2 linked regions of the Homo sapiens genome follow. Changing the gene in region 2 together with the main gene of any one other region gives a genetic interaction. Each region holds a gene or a part of one and is shown on either strand. Other genes may lie near its edges.

Region 1 (5,197 bases), on a different chromosome or scaffold from region 2:
TGCTTCACAATCAGAAACCACTGCTGAAAACTAGAATATCTGTAGGAGGAGAAATCCTCAAAAAAAGTGAACTTCTCAAGAAAATCCATGTCCAGCTCATCCCAAGCGCATGACTCCATGAGGGCTGATGAGTCATGACCCGCAGCCACAATGCACCATGCGTTCATCCCTCATGCAGCCATTAATCCATCCGCTCCTTCAATAGACACTACTTGGAAGTTACCCAGTCCCTGGTCCCATGGAAGAACTGGAGGGTGAGACTGGGCTCTGGGTACTTTCTAAAAGCCACTAACCCTGTGTCAACCCAGACCTCTGTCCTAAATGCCAGCCACTTACTAGACATCTCCTCTACATGGAAGTGTCCAGAAACTTTCGGCTCACCATGTTCAAAAAAATATCATCTCACCCAGCTCACTGCCCAAAGCTGCTCCCCCACCAACTTCCCAAAGGGCACCTGCTCAGAGAAAACTCTGAGCTGTTCTAGATTCTTTTCTCTCCTCCAGTGGCTGTCTCAGTCCCTCATCCCAGGTCCCTGGGCCAGCTCCTCCTTAACTTTGTTCCCATCTTTCATTTTTTCCATTGCCTCCACCTGGACTTACTCCAGCAGGGCTTTGCACCAGGCCTGAGTCTCTGTCCGGGCTTCCAGCACATCTTCCTGGCTGCAGCTGGGCCCTCCTCCATGCCACCATATAACAAAAAATATTCTCTCTCTCCCCTGCTTAGAACCCATCTGTAGGTGACCAGAAGTTTCAGGACAGATTTCAGACTCCTTTGCTTAACACAAGCCCCTCTGACTGTACATGCATAGAAACTACCTATCTCTCCAGCGCTTCCTTCCATATCGTCACATGAAACACTTGCTTCTGCCACACTGCATGTTTGTCAGCGGCAGGTTTTACCCATGATGCCTACATATACTAGGGTTCCCTCTGCATTCATGAGCTTCTCTTAGTCCTTCCGCACGTAGCCTGAGGCTCCCCTGCACCTCCTAGTGGCTATGCAGCCCTCTGCACCCCCAAGACACAAGGCAACACATGCTTAGCCTGCCATAGACCTCCCGGGACCCCCACCCCCACTGTGCAGCCACCACCTGGGACCTGCCTGTCTCCCCTGTAGACTGGGGGAGATTGTCCTACTTCTCTCTCCTTGACCCCCAGCACCTAGCCCATGGCCTCATGTTCAGTTATTTATTCATTCATTCAACACATATGCAAGTATCCACTTTGTCCCTGGCACTGTGCTAAGTGCTGTGCTACAGAAGTGAAAAGGAAGACCCTACCCGCCCGGAGCTTACATTTTAGAAAAAAACCCATGCAAAATAGACAAATCAATATATCGTATAGCATCAACTAGTGCAAAGAATTATAAAGAAAACTAAAGCCAAGCAAAGAGAAGAGAATGGTGGCTGGAGTCGAGAGGGGATTGTACCTTAAATAGGCCCTCCATGATGCAGTGGTGACACTGAAGCAGGGATTTGAAGGAAAAGAGGGTCGAGGCTTGCAGCTTTCTGGCAAAGAGCATTCCAATTACAGAAAACAGCAAGTGCAAAGGTCCCAAGGCAGGACCGTCCCTGAGGACGTGGGCTCTGTGCAGAAGAGCAGGGTACCTTGATGCCAGCAGGGAAGCCCAGAAACCTGGGACAAACCACGTGTGACCTCCCAAGTGACAGGGGCTGGAGGCCTCATTCTGAAAGTCAGGGGTATGCACTGAAGGGGTCTGAGTGGGGGTGGAACAGGATCTAATCCAGGCTATGCAGAGGCGAGCCCTACTCCCTTTGACGGCTGTAGCCTGTGGCCCTCACTCTTGTGACACCTGCCCACTGGTCCAGAGGAGGAGAGAGTGTAAGGAGGGGACCACGAGGTGCATTCTAGTCACCTAGAAAGCATGCCAGAGTGCAGAGAAGGCTGGGGATGACAGGCAAGGGAGTGGCACGGTCAAGACAGGAGAGAACACGATACCTCTCCCTGACTGTGTGGGCAGTGACCTTACCTTGGGGCTCTCTTCTTTAGCGGGATGGTGTCTAAACAGAGAAAGCCGGGCATTAGGAAGGGGGTCGTGTGACAAGAGGTGCAGAGCATTCCCTAGAGCTTTCACCTCCCTCTCCTTGGTCCTCTCACTCACGGTTGCCCTCGAGAGACCCGGGGCCTGGCTGCTATGTGATGAAGAGGCTGTTTCCTCCCCTTATTTGTGGGGATACACAAGGATAAGCAAACTCAAGGATAAGCAAACTCCCATGGCCTATTAAGCCCCTCGGGCGATGCACACGCCAGCATCTCGGAAGCCTCCTCCTCTCCCGGCCCAGACCAGCCCCTTCTGCTTATCTTCACGGATCATAATCACGTCTTCCAGGAAGGCAGTGAGGCTCTATTCTCCCCAGAAGCACCCCATGGAAAACTGCACCGTCATTGCAGTGAGCCATCTAATACAACAGAGGATGAGTCTGGGGATGATACCCTGAGAGAAGGGATGCAAATCAATACTGCACTTTGGGTGCCAAGGAGGCAGAGGGCTGTGCCATGGTGCATGTCAGCCAGCTCAGTTTCTCTCTGAGGGCCTACTCAGTACTGCTTTGAGAAGGACTTTCCCAATTTATGAAAAAAAATTCATCTTGACCCACAAAGGCAGTGTCAACAGAACCTCCCACCATCCGCCCACACTTAGGACCAACCTCGCTGCCTACTGGGACTGGGTTTATTTGATCTCATCATTTGGATGAGAGAACAGAAATTTCTGTGTGAAGCCAATTTTAGTTCCTCTCCCACCTTTCTCCAGGAAATGTGATTCTCAGGACTGCCAAGAGCAACTGAAAGGAAAAGTACAGAGGGAAAGAGACACAGAAAGACAGAGACATGGAAAGGGAGACAGAAAAAGGAACACAAATAGAGAGACAGAGAGAGATAGAGACAGAAGAAAGAGAAACAGAGGCAAAGGGTTAGTGAGAGAGACAGAAACATGCAGAGGTCACTGCCTTCCTTTACAGCCTGTTGGGCTCTGCGCTTGTGGGTTCATTCTTGCTGTAGCCAGCATCACAGAGTGGCCCTCGGTGCCTCGCTGGGTGGGGCAGAGCCAGGCCCGAGCACCACATCCCTCACCACTGAGGCCCCCAGGCGTGCTTTTCAGGTCGGAAGAGTCGTCGTCAAATAAGTGCCTCCTGATCATGCAGATCTTCAGGGCCAGGAAGCCAGCAGATATGGCGACACCCACAGCAGTCCCGATGAGGGCGTACTTGAAATCTGAAACGCAGGGAGGAATTGAACACCCGGTTTCAGTCACCTGCAGCTCCCTCTGCATTCCAGATGAGGTCCAAAGCATGCATGTGGCCCTTAACACACCACCTCCCACTGGCTGAGGCCAGCCTCACCTTCTACTCTCCCATGAGTCCCTTTGCTCCTAGCCTCTGCCTGCACCCCATCCCCTCCTTCAGCTGTAGAAACTGTTGCCACCTTTCAAGGCTCCCTGAAGCTCACCTGGCTACCCCTGCCCAAAAGGTGAGTGGCTCATTTCTCTGGCCACCTGAGCCTCCTAGCCCTTCCTCACTGATCCCTTCGTTAATTCATCCACTCATCTATTGGGTGTGTGTTAATTGCCTGCTCTGTGGTGAACACTGCAGGAGAATGGATAAGGCCTGTCTGGCCTTTGAGGAGCCTGCAGTCAGCTGGGGAGGACAGGGAAGGAGCTCATGACGGGAGAGGCTGGGTTGGCCTAGAGTCATGGGCGTCCAGAGCCTTCTCAGAGGGTGAGGCATGCAGACTGAGCCTGGCCAGCAGATGAGGCCCTTAAGGGGCAGACAGGCTGGAAGCTCGCAGGTGGAGGGAGGCACCGATGAGGGCTGTGAGCCTGGCAAAGCATGCTGTCAGGGCCCATGGCTGTGGGACAGGGCTCAGTGGGTGCTGGAGCCACGCATCTGTGGCCCTGAGGTATCACGTCCCCTGTGTGGACGAGCTTTAATGCAAGGCCTTTCCCCCGAAATAAAGCTGTCAGCTGCTCTGGGGGACCTGGAGGTGAGGGTGCCCCTTTTCCTATGCTGACAGCAGGGAACCAATTCCAGCACTGCGGCCCTCTGCTTGCTTGTCTTGGGAGCTTCCTTCCTGCCCCTGACCCTGTGCACAGAATAACATGGGCAGCCACGTACCAATTTCAGCCCCAGGGGTCTTGCCTGTTGCCAGCACTTGAGCTCCTCCTACATCTGCAAAGAAAGAAACCCCAGAGCCTGGTTAGAACAGAGCTGGCTGTGGTCCCAGCTACCCAGTCTCAGAGGCCTGGGAAAGCCTACCCCATGTACCCACCAGGAGCACAGAGGTGGGCTCCCAATTGCCATGGAGTGTCTTGGAGCCTTGCTGAGACATCAGAGCTTCCCTCAAAACTCAGACCAGGAACGCGTCTCCACCCAATGCACTTCAGTCAGCCGTTCAGCACAGTTTCCAAGACCTGAACTCTGACCCAAGCCTGCTCCACAAGCTCCCCTGTGGCTCCCAAGGCCCTCCTTAATCCAGCATGGCTTTGGTGCTTCTAGTTCCCCACACAGCCAGGGAATCTCCTGCCCTGCCTCAGGGCCACACCCTCTGCCTGACCCCATCTTCTTCCCTTCCTCCTTTACCTGGTCTTGGCTCCATGCCACTTCCTCCCTGACTCCCCAGACCTGGGTGAGCTGATCCCAGTGTGCTCCGTAGCCGTGGTGCTTGCCGGCCATAACTGACCATGTCAATATGTAACAACATTTACATAGCACTAGTTTGCTCCAGGCTCCATCCTAAAAGCTTCTCACATATTAACACATCAATACGTCTTCTGGCTGGTCTCGCTCTGGGCTGCGTGGTATAGTGTCCAGCATTTGATGCAGTGCTTGGCCCACAGGAGGCATTAATAGACATTGGTGAATGGAAGGAAGGAAGGAAGAAAGGAAGGAAGGAAGGAAGGGAGGGAGGGAGGGAGGGAGGGAGGGAGGGTGGGAAGGAAGGAAAGAAAGAAGGAAAGAGAGCATGCTGTAAGGGTCCCTCCCTCTTCTAGCCAGGCCTTGAAACCTTAAGACAGGAGATACTGCTCACAAACAGCGCCCTAAAATAGTGATCCAGAGGTGAGGTCCTTGGAGAGAAATGTGCACATTTATTGGCCACTTACTCTGAGACGGACACTGGGTGCAGTGCTGGCATTAATATATGTAATACTCACAGCAACAACTCTGTGAGATAAGTACTGT
Region 2 (5,197 bases):
CAGGGTGGTCTCAAACTCCTGACCTCAAGTGATCCACCCACCTTGGCCTCCCAAAGTGCCGGCATTATAGGTGTGAGCCACAGCACCCGGCCAATTGATATACTTTTGATTAAAGCTGTTTACATTAGTCTCTCCCACTAAACTGGGTTCCCAGGCTTACAAGGGCAATGACTGGGGATCTCATTCATTGTCATACTCTGTCTACACGAAATATTCAGCAGGTGTCAAGTCTGCCATTTTCCTTTAAATTAAGAACACAGTTATTTGGTTGGGCTGTATTTGATGGGGGTAGGGGTAAGGAAGGGGAAAAAAACTGAGGGAAAACTGTCCTCTCTTAAATACATAGGACATGAAGAGGAACTGAGTTTGCTTTCATTATAAACTCAAGCCTGCCTCAAAATACCAGATTCTTTTCCCATGTCCTTGTGCTTGCCAAACGCATGAATTTAGACTCACCCACAATGTAAAACTCCAAAACCTTCAATTTGGCCTAACTTAGAATTCATAAATTTGGCTAAGCAAATAATATGCAAGAGTGAATTGTGACATTGTATTTACCCTAACTATGGTGTTTCCAAATACATTTTAAAAGAGCACCTTAACAGTTTTCACTTCAGACAAATCAGATAATAAGGACACCCAGTTGAAGTCACTAATCTATGTTACTAGTTAATAATGGCCCTAGTACTAGAACCATTCAAATTACTTTCTTTAAATATTCAAATTAAACTACCATTCTCCTTAATACACTGATGTTCTCACAAACCAGTACAGCACAACTCAGTATAATTTATGTTTCTGTAGATTCTTTCAAGGGGCCCTATTACTTCACCACAACACTGTCTTAACCACATGAATTAGAGGTATGAACCCTAAGAGTAAGAATGCATTCAGTCTCCAATCTATACTGGATTAGTGCTACATTATAAATTTATTGAAGGTAAAGATCATTTTCTTCCTAGACAAAGCCTTATATTTAAGTTTTAAAGCCTCACAACTTAAACATGTGAAAATTATAAACAGTCCCTTCAACTGTATCATTGCTTAAAACTCCCAAAGTTCAGGAAAACAATAAATCACAGGTGGAACAGATTCAATATGAGAAAATGTAGTGGGAGTTGGAGAATACAGTTTTTCGAGGGCAGAGGGGGCTGGCTTGCCCTTTTTACTATTATGTACACTACTACTACGTTAAGATAACAAGCATGGTTTTTATGTTTCTTAAAACTATCTTCTAAAATATAACAGTAAAACAGAGTAAAAAGATACCTTAAGAGAAGCATGGAATGACCCACAACCCTCTTAATAAAGGAAGAAAATCACAATACTTAAGGAGAGACAACTGCATCAAATATTACCATGCGCTAAAATTAATCTAACAAACTATGTACACCTCTAGTTAATTGTTTTCCCAAACTTTAGGGGGAAAGATGTGAAACTCTCTAATTCAGCATAAACAGATCAATCCCATTTTTGCCTGAGCTTCCAAAGTTCTGACAGCCTAACTATTCCACTGTGTCAGGAACAGTGTGCAGTCTTAAAGTACTGCATCCACACAACCTGAACTTTCCTGCAATTCATGTTTTTGTTTTTAATTGTCCTAAACACTATCAAGGGAAAAAACAACATTGGGGTTTCAGGAAAGAACTACGGTTTGCCAGAGAGAACAAGATCTCTACAGGTATTATAAAGTCTCAATGATTCAACGTCTATAAAGTTTCTTTATATGCCACTATTTCTTAGTACCTTACCAGGTTACTTTGTTTTAGATGACCTGTACTATGGCCCAAAAATGTTAACTTTCAACAAGACTCATGGCCAGGCGCAGTGGCTCACACCTGTAATCCCAACACTTTGGGAGGCCAAGGTGGGCGGATCACCTGAGGTTGGGAGTTCGAGACCAGCCTGACCAACACGGTGAAACCCTGTCTCTAAAAAATTAGCCGGCGTGGTGGCACATGCCTGTAATCCCAGCTACTCGGGAGGCTGAGGCAGGAGAATCGCTTGAACCCAGAGGTAGAGGTCGCGGTGAGCCAATATCGCGCCAATGCACTCCAGCCTGGGCCACAAGAGCGAAACTCCGTCTCCAAAAAAAAAAAAAAAAGAAAAAAAGGATTCATGACCTAATTACTTCTACCTGCTTAGCCATCTGCGTGATCCATCTTTCCATCATGGTTTCAAGCAAGTCTTATTATTCTGTTGCTTTTTTTCCTACAGCAGTATTCAATGCTGTCACACAGGTTAACTCTCCCAGCTCTATTTGGAAGTCTGTATTAGACAGCAACAAGCAACAACAGACTTATCACTGACTACATTTCCCGGGTTTCTCCAGCAATACTAAAATCCCTTAGCCAAGAGTGCCTTCTTATGACAGGTCTGGCCTGGGGAGATAGAGATCCACCTGCCCACTGGCTGCACTCTGCTGGTCCTGCCTCTTAAAGTGCAAGGGACCTGAGGGACGACAGGCAGAAGGTCAAGTCTTACATCCATCCTCTCCCACCATCTACAGCAAACCAAGTAAGAAAGGTGTCAAGGGAGGTCCCAGGTCCCATGAGAACTAACCCAACAATTTCCCACCTTACTTGCCTGTCATGGACCATTAGAAATATAACAGAATTCTTAAGACACAAGAACTTCCTCTTTGACTTCAGAAGAGGAAAAAAACACGTACAACACATAAGTGTAAAGCGATAAATTCTAATCAACACTGCAGAAAGATATGTCATTTTAACACCAATAAGCTCAAACTAACTTTCTAAAAACATTTTCTAGGATAGGTTAGCTGACAGAAATCGCCCATATTAAGTTCTTAGCTTACATTCTATTAAACATTTCTAGAGCAAGCTGTTTACTGTAAGACAAAAAACAGTATATCTGGACCTAAACCTAACCGTGAAAAATGGGTCCACAGGCACCCTCTTAACCATTTTTCCAAAGAAATATGTTTAAACGGCTTTACCATGCAGAGCTATGGCTTCCCGGAAGGGTTGCAAATCAGTCTCTACAGATGAGCTAGTTTCCGTTGAAGTAGCTCGGTTAGGGGACACTACAGTCAGTCTTGGGGGAGCTCTAGAGTTTCGTGGTGGAGGAACTTTTCCACACAGGAAGCTGATCAAATCTTCTCGACGAATAGTTCTTCTGCGTTTTTTAACCCAAGCCAACACATCCTTATTGCGTCGCTGATAGCCAATCTGAATTCCAATATCAAAACTTCGTTGATGGGTATCCACGCTTTCTGTTAGAAAAAAAGAAAAAGAAAACATGTATCATGACCATTAGAGCCCGTATTCCCTTCTAAAGAAAACCATTTTACAATTTAACCAAAGTGAATACCATGATGTGGCCTCTGAGCCCATCAGTAATATAAACTGAAATGATTTCAGTCATAATGAAAATGTTATATGTAACATTTAATCTTAATGGTCTAAATTCAGTGTTTACTTATCACAGTCCTGGAGCTTGGCTTGTTAAAAAAAAAAATTTAACAGAAACAGAGAGATTAGGTATCTTTAATGAAATTACCTAAAATAACTTGCATCACATCATTCAACAGATGTCTAAATATTGCACATGCCTCAGGCCACGCTCATCTGCATTTACCACGTCATTGTGGAGATACATTCCTACTGACAGATTCAGCACCAAGAATGAGGAACAAGCTGAAGGCAGCAGCAAATGTTTTAGAAGGAAAAATTAATTCTGACTGATGGCTCAACACTAAAACCAAATAGCATGGTGGAAAACAAAAAGCTTTATTCATTTCCCTGGGTATACTCATTTTGCTTCCAGTTCTCAACAGCTTCCTGTAACTCAACCATTCCCAACAGATCTCCTAGACTAAATTCTCTGCATATACTCCACCTGGGTTTTGGTAAAATGATCTCTACCTTTTAGTGGTTTCATTTAGTTGAAAAAAAATTTGAAAATTTAAGTGACTATTATTTAGTTTTAATTGAGCTGCTGTGCCAGCAGAACATCACCAGTATGTCTTTAATGGCATTAACCAACATCGTTACTTTATCCTTGAACTTTCCGTAAAAGCAACAATACTGTGTACATTTCTCTATTACTTTTCCCGGCTTTGATTATTTCGTTTTATTTTATTTTTTGAGACGGAGTCTCTCTGTTGCCCAGGCTGTAGTGCGATGGCTCGATCTCAGCTCACTGCAACCTCCGCCTCCAGGGTTCTCCTGCTTCAGCCTCCTGAGTAGCTGGGATTACAGGCGCACGCCACCATGCCTGGCTAATTTTTCTATTTTTAGTAGAGACCGGGTTTCACCATATTGGTCAGGCTGGTCTTCAACTCCTGACCTTGTGATCCGCCTGCCTCAGCCTCCCAAAGTGCTGGGGATTACAGGCGTGAGCCACTGCAACCGGCGGCTTTAATTTCTTGTCTGCTACATCTACAGCAGACTCTCAAAGGATGGGCAATAGTCAAACAATGTAAAGCTATGTTCCAGAAAAAAAAAAAAAAAATCATCCAGACATCACAGAGGATGCCAAGCTGAATTTGCACTATTAAAGAAAATGGCAAGAGGGAAGCACAACAACCAGAACTTTATAATAAGGCCTACTCTTAAGCAGATGACAGTCTTTATTGCTAAAGACAAAGAAAAACAAGGATATTGTCCACAGATCTTTTCTCTTAAAAAAATAATCAAAGTAGGACCTGGGATGTTAAAAAGAAAGAAAAAATACTTTAAAATGAAAAGGACCAGGACAAGAATTCAACATCAATTTGGAAACCTGATATGCTATAGAGTGCATTCATATCTTCTCCATCACAACTCTGAGAAGGTGGATTATTCTAATTTTACAAATATAAAAAGCAGCTCAAGAGTGAAGTAACTTCTCCAGTGTCTCACTACTGGTATAACATGAATCAATAATTTTGATTTCTCACTTCTTCATAAACAAAGCATGAACTCCATTTTGAATGTAAATAACAGTAGAGAGGGTCACCACTTTTCCCATCTCTTTAGGAAAAGATTTAGATGAGCCAACCCTAAAGGGGTGGACAAACCTAAAGATGACCTTGTAGTGCTGTACCTAAAACTTAAATGATTCTGAAAGAGCTGGAGGCATTAAGAGAAATCAAGTCATTGACCAACTAAACTTATCACACCACATAAAGGATAAATGTAAAATGTGTTAACCTAGAAGCAATCAGGTTTTTAAACCTATCCTACCTAGAAGA

Evidence for each region. Genes that interact genetically often act in the same process or in processes that back each other up.
Region 1: changes in HAPSTR1 (region 2) and TMEM273 together harm fitness less than expected from each alone (positive genetic interaction), as found in Homo sapiens cells (one large-scale study listed by BioGRID).

The regions. Positions count from the first base shown.
Region 1 is NC_000010.11:49,163,777-49,168,973, forward strand, and holds part of TMEM273 (transmembrane protein 273 isoform 2 precursor), read right to left. Parts: intron 4,187-5,197; coding exon 4,133-4,186; intron 3,234-4,132; coding exon 3,093-3,233; intron 2,021-3,092; coding exon 1,990-2,020; intron 1,586-1,989; coding exon of another isoform or gene 1,508-1,585; coding exon 1,429-1,507; intron 1-1,428.
Region 2 is NC_000016.10:9,101,022-9,106,218, reverse strand, and holds part of HAPSTR1 (HUWE1-associated protein modifying stress responses 1), read right to left. Parts: exon of another isoform or gene 5,190-5,197; intron 3,236-5,189; coding exon 2,960-3,235; exon of another isoform or gene 1-2,959. UniProt on the Homo sapiens protein: Acts as a central player within a network of stress response pathways promoting cellular adaptability. The E3 ligase HUWE1 assists HAPSTR1 in controlling stress signaling and in turn, HUWE1 feeds back to promote the degradation of HAPSTR1.